Linked DNA regions of Homo sapiens: region 1 is linked to region 2. Evidence: fine-mapped expression QTL. A gene starts in region 2. The other region holds a variant in brackets. All regions are shown on one strand. Distances are between the middles of the regions.

The links. PIP is the estimated chance that this variant, and not a neighbour inherited with it, causes the effect.
Region 1: its variant is fine-mapped to the expression of ITPKB in whole blood (TOPMed, PIP 0.99).

Annotation. Positions count from the first base shown.
Region 1 is chr1:226,632,214-226,635,115 of GRCh38, reverse strand. ITPKB (inositol-trisphosphate 3-kinase B) reads left to right here. Exons shown (of 8, transcript NM_002221.4): 8 at 230-2,902. The coding sequence ends at 445. Among named protein-coding and RNA genes, the nearest start is that of ITPKB-IT1, 41 kb to the left of the region's middle. RefSeq lists an enhancer at 2,059-2,208. The variant T/C (reference allele first, on the strand shown) is at 1,511.
Region 2 is chr1:226,737,782-226,740,683 of GRCh38, reverse strand. ITPKB (inositol-trisphosphate 3-kinase B) reads left to right here and starts at 1,402. Exons shown (of 8, transcript NM_002221.4): 1 at 1,402-1,643. RefSeq lists enhancers at 1,396-1,645, 2,269-2,768 and a silencer at 1,866-2,105.

The DNA of each region.
Region 1 (2,902 bases), 110 kb after region 2:
CTGCCCACACAGAAGGGTGGTCGCCGACCCTGGAACCCGATGCCCTCTGCCCAGGCATGGCCATTCTTGGGCCGGCTCTGCTGCCTGTCTGAAAATGGGGATTGGAATTGCAGGCACCCAACTGTCCGGCCTGAGCGAGCCTCCCCACCTGGTCACCCAGGCCCCGGGCCGCAGTGGGGAGGGCGAGGCCCGGGCTTCAGCTCACCCTTCACCCCCATGTTCTCCTCAGGTCATTGGCAGCTCCCTCCTCTTCATCCACGACAAGAAGGAACAGGCCAAAGTGTGGATGATCGACTTTGGGAAAACCACGCCCCTGCCTGAGGGCCAGACCCTGCAGCATGACGTCCCCTGGCAGGAGGGGAACCGGGAGGATGGCTACCTCTCGGGGCTCAATAACCTCGTCGACATCCTGACCGAGATGTCCCAGGATGCCCCACTCGCCTGAGCTGCCCACGCCCTCCCTGGCCCCCGCCTGGGCCTCCTTTCCTCCTCCTGTGCTTCCTTTCTCGTTCCTAACTTTTCCTTCACTTACACCTGACTGACCCTCCTGAACTGCACTACAAGACACTTTGTAGAAGAGGAGATGAGAGTTTCTAGTCATTTTCCTAACTTCAGGGCTTGGAGGTGGTGTTTGCACTGCTTTTTGTAGAGAGGGTCACCTACTAGAAGAGAAATGCCCAGTCTTAGAGGTGGGTCAGGTGTAGAGCTGGAGGGGGTCCCTGGCTGCTGAGGGGACCCTACCAGATGAGCCCTGCCTCTGGGAGCCCCCTAGGAAGCACCAGCCTGGACCTACCACCTGCGGAGGCCTGCTGCCCCCTGGCGGCCAGTGCTGTTAGAGTGCTGCCAAGCACAGCCTTATTTCTGCCGGGGCCTCCCCACCGGAGAGCCCAGGGGGCCGGCCGGGTTCCTGGTCCCTGGCTGGGAGCAGGGCTTTCTGGTAGTTGGGGCACAAAACCATCGGGGAACCACATGTTGACTGTGAGCAAAGTGTCTTCCGATTAGCAGCCTCAGGGATGCCCTGGTGGCCTCTCCAGGGCTGCTCAGGCAAGGCCCCCCACCCATCTGGTATGGAAACCTGCCGGCTCCAGGCCAGACCCAGGAGCCAAGAGAAGGCTGAAGCCAGCTTGGCTGTGTTCTCTGATCTAGGCCTTCCCAGAGGAGGCGAGCAGAAGCTGTGCCACTTGGAATTGCAACCCATGAGTTCAGAAGGCACACTCTGCCATGCTGAGCTCCAAGGGTGCTACCAGGGGAAGATGGGATCTATAGAGTCTCTGGGCCCTGGCCCCAGGGAGGAGCACATTTTTCTTGACCCTCACCTACCTGGTGCTAGTTGGTCAACCCTGCCTGCATACATGGGCTCCTGTCATGGGGCCCAGAGTCCCTTGCAGATATAGAAATAGGGGAGGAGCTCAGGTCTGCGCCAGGCAGGAAGAAGGCAGGCTTCTGGCTTCCAGAGGTGCCGCGGTGGCCTCCTGGCATCATTTGTTATTGCCTCTGAAACAAGCCTTAC[T/C]GCCTGGAGGGCTTAGATTCCTGCTTCTCCAATGTAGTGTGGGTATCTTGTAGGGTATGTGGTGGATGCCAGGGCGTGCTCCAGGCACCTCTTCCTGAAGTCTCTGCATTTGGAGATTCGTGGAGAACCTATTTAAGCCCAATTTTAACTGAAAGCCAGTGAGTCTGATATGGAAGGGAATGTAAAATTTGCCTGACTTCTTAAGAACAAAACCCCCAGCTCTGTGCCCCATGCTCCTTGGGGCTTGCCACCCACTCCTTTGCTGTCAGAGGTACAGGAGCTGGGAGAGTCCAGGAGCTAGGGACACAGAGGGAGACTATGGACCAAGGTGTGTGTGTCTGGAGGAACCACTGCCCACCCCACCACCCCGGGGTCTCTGGGGAACTGTCAACCTGCCCACGGGACATGTACATTTCCCCTTTTGTGCTGGAAGTGTGAGTGACACTTGCTGGGGGTGGAGGGTGGGACACATGAGGATGTATAAGTACAGATTTTAAAAAAGGAAATCAACTTACACTTCCTGGCTCTTGTTTAAAACAGTGGTGAGCTCCTGTGTGGGCCGACTTGCTAAAGGTCACACACGCGCCCGGTGGAGCACGAGAGACCTCGTGGCAGCATGTGATCTGGAAGGCAGGCAGGACGGGGGCGTTGGGGAGCCAAAGTCAACTCTGGGCCTCTGGAGCTATAGTGACTTTTGGGCTAGAAGGGACCCTGGTGGTCTGTGCTTCAGCCATTTGCAGGGCAGGGGCATCATTAATTCAGACGTAAAGATTCTATGAATATGGACTGGCCAAAAGTTATCCTTACTCCATCTGTGAAAGAAGTTTGCTAAAGCAAATCATGATATGAACAAAAATTACAGGGGACCTGTTTAAGAGAACAAAATGTTCCAAGCACTTTAGGCAGACACCAGCTGTTTGCAAACAATGTGCTAATATGCAAATGATGTGCTTATTAAAGGAGGCCCATGGGGCCTCTTATTGGCAATACTTGGCTGTGGGTTACATTAAATATGTGAACATAGTATGAAGTAGCATCATTTTAGGGTTATTCTGTTACTTAGGGTTTTTGTTTTCTGTTTTTTTTTTCTCTTTTTTTGTATTTACCGTGCTAGTTCTCTTCTACACCTACTCTGTCTCTCAAGCCATTTTGCCACTCGCTTCCCTGCCATCTGGCCCTTCCCTTTGTCTCAGTGGGATAGATGGATTGTGAAATGGAATCTCCCAGAACCCCTGCCCTGGCAGCCTGGAAGACCGTGCCTGCCCAGCCCTCGTCACCACAGGGACTCCTTGGGTCCTGGCAGTGCATGTGCCAGCAGGCAGGACAAACTCTGTGTACCTGTGCCCAGGTGAATGGGCGCAGGGTCCTCTTGCCCTGTCCTGCGGGGGGCCC
Region 2 (2,902 bases):
TCACCATGTTGGTTAGGCTGGTCTCGAACTCCTGACCTTGTGATCTGCCTGCCTTGGCCTCCCAAAGTTCTGGGATTGGGCTTTTTTTTAAAAAAGCCCCATTGAGGGTAGGAGGGTAATTAGGTTCAATTCTTCCATTTCTAATTTTTAAAAATTATAAAGTTTTCAACAGTGTGTGATTCTCAGGTATTCTTGGCTAGAAGATCTCTTGATTTCAGATTTAGCATGAGCCTCTTCCTGATGGAGCAGCAGGTTGCTTTGCTCACTTAACAGTATTGTTACATAAACAAGCAAGAGATCTGTGTGCTACAAGTAAAGTCAAAATTTCCATCTGAATTTCAGCTAATCATGATATAAGGACCAATTCAGGCTTTGGATGTTTCAGTCTCCTGAGCCGTGCAGCTGTGTTTTCCCTCCTTTCACTAAATGCTGTAGTTTAAGATTTAGAGAATTATGTAAAACACACTGGCAGTGCCAGGGCTTAGAAGGGGTAGGATCCCCTGCCCAGTAATGTTGGCTGATGTTCTTTCTCCCTTTTTTGCTGATAGTAGGGGAGAAAGTTTCTTGAAAATGATCCAGTCTACAGGAGACAGTCTACAAGGGTCTACAGGAGCAAGAGGGGTTTCAGACGTTACCCAAGCCTTCTTAGTTTCAGGACTATGCTTTTTCTTAAAATAATTCTGAGAATTAAGTGCAAAAATATGCGAATGTCACATGTGCCGTGTGCATTTATAAATAAATGTGACATGTAAAGGTGTATTTATATATCTACCAATTGCACTGCAAAACCATCCCCAGCTCATAGACCAACCAGTCTTCCAAAATACTACTGTGATGCACTTAAAACCTGCAACTCTGCAGGAAGGTGACCTCAATGTACCTTCTTTGAATTTGCAGAACTGTGTACAAGAACACAAACTGTTTATACAGGATTGTAGCCTTTTTTAAATGCTAAAAAGGTCCCCATGATTTGCTTTGTTTAAGACATACACTCAAAACTTTATTAAAAACATTTTTCAAAAATAGTTTCATAAAGCTAGACACATCAGCAAGCCTCGATTGAGGGGTGGAAAATGAATTGTATATCTTTAAACCGCAGAAGTTAAAAGCCTTTTTTGTTGTTGTTAGCTAACAATGGAAACTTTTTTTTAAGTGTTTCCCTCCCTCGTCTTGCCAAGCAATAGAAAAAAAAAAAAAAGAAGAAAAGAAAAACTTGTTCCGCTGAGTTCAACCCCAGACAGGCTCACAACTTCCTTCCTGCTTTCCTCCCCCAAGCCTCCGCCTTTCTCCCTCCTCCCTCCTCCACTACCCCCCCCCCCAACAACTTTTCTTTCTTTCTTTTTTTTTTTTTTAATCGTGCATTGAACAAACACTGAAGTAGCCCGGAGCAGACACTGACAGGGGCAGTATCTCCACGGTCGAAAAGGGCGTGCAGGGCCGGCTTGGCGTCGCCACTGCCGGGATCGCCGGGCCCCTGAACCGAAGAGCTTTCCCCCCTCTTTCGCACTCCTCTTTTTTGTCTTCCATAGCTTGTGAGAAAATAATTTCTGAGCATTTTTACTTTTAAAGCCATCTCGTCCCTACGAGGTTTGCGCCTCTGGGCATGTAGTCTACACAGGACCTGAGAATCTGAGAAACTGCAGGTAAGTTTGGCGGCCTTTTAATGGCTCTCGCCTCTGAACAACCCTCTTTTCCCTCACTTTCTGCTCTGGAGCGAATCTCGGCGTTCCTGGTTCCGAAACAGGGCAAAGGGGTGGGCTGGGGAGGCAGGGAAGGGGGTTTGATTTTGGAGGGTGACATGGAGTGGCGGTGGGGAGAAAATAGGGAGAGACGAGGTCTCCGCATTTCTCCTACCCGCCTTCCGGGCCGCTCACTCCGCGCCGCCTCCCTCAGCGCGCTCCAGGAGTCCCCAGGCTGGGGTCTCGGGGCGGCTCTGCTGGCGCCGGGCGAGGCTGCCCGGGATGCGGAGAAGCCCTGCGCTCCGCGGCGCTGCCCTGGGGTGTTAGAGCGCCGGCTCCTGGGAGGTTTGCAGAGCTAGAGGCTCTGTGCACCTAGGGCTGCTGCCCGGCTGCAGCCATGCACGCCCCTAAGTTCCTCCGAGTGGGCGCGGGTCCGGGAGCCCGCAGGGGCAGTCGCGTCCTCGGCAACAGGGCGCGCTGAGAGCGGACTCGCTCCGCGCGCGTGCGGCGTATACACACACGCGTGTATACACACACACTCACAGACACCCCCCCATAGGGGACGACGGCAGGGGGGCAGCAAGTACTGGTTCCGGTAAAGAGAACGTGTAGAACCTCGGTGCGCCCACACTCACAAAACACTTGTCTAGGGATAGGCGACAAGGCTAGCCCTGAAAAATGCTTCGGCTGCGGCCCCGCTGCCCGCCCAGGCCTTCGTAGGCCGAGAGACACAGCCCCAAGGCTAGGGTCAGGAAGGTAAACGGCGGGCACGCGGGCGCCCTCCCAGATCCGGGCGCTGGCAGCGGCTCGGGCAAGGCAGGTCCCGCTTAGGTTCCCTCCGAGCCGGTCGGTCTCTGATGCCCCGAGAGGGTGGAGCAGGGAGACCCTGAAGCCCAGGGCGAGGGCTGCCGGGTTGCCCTGGATAGCCAATGTTTGCTCAGGCTGGGGAGACCCGGAGACGGTGGCTGGGGTGTCCTCAGCCCGGGAGAGCTGAGTCAGCCGCGCCCCGCACACAGCATACTTAGGAGCCAAGGACTTGGACCTCGCTTCTCGCCGGTCCGCGAGACGAGTATTAGGATTGGGATTTGAAGGGACCTCATAAAGCGCATCGCAGCCTGGGGCGAGGTGGGGGGCGGGGAAGCACACCCGAAACCGCGCTGGCGACCGAGGCAGCCGGGGCATGCCCTCGCCGAGCCTCGCCGTCCCCATAGGTGAGATGTCCG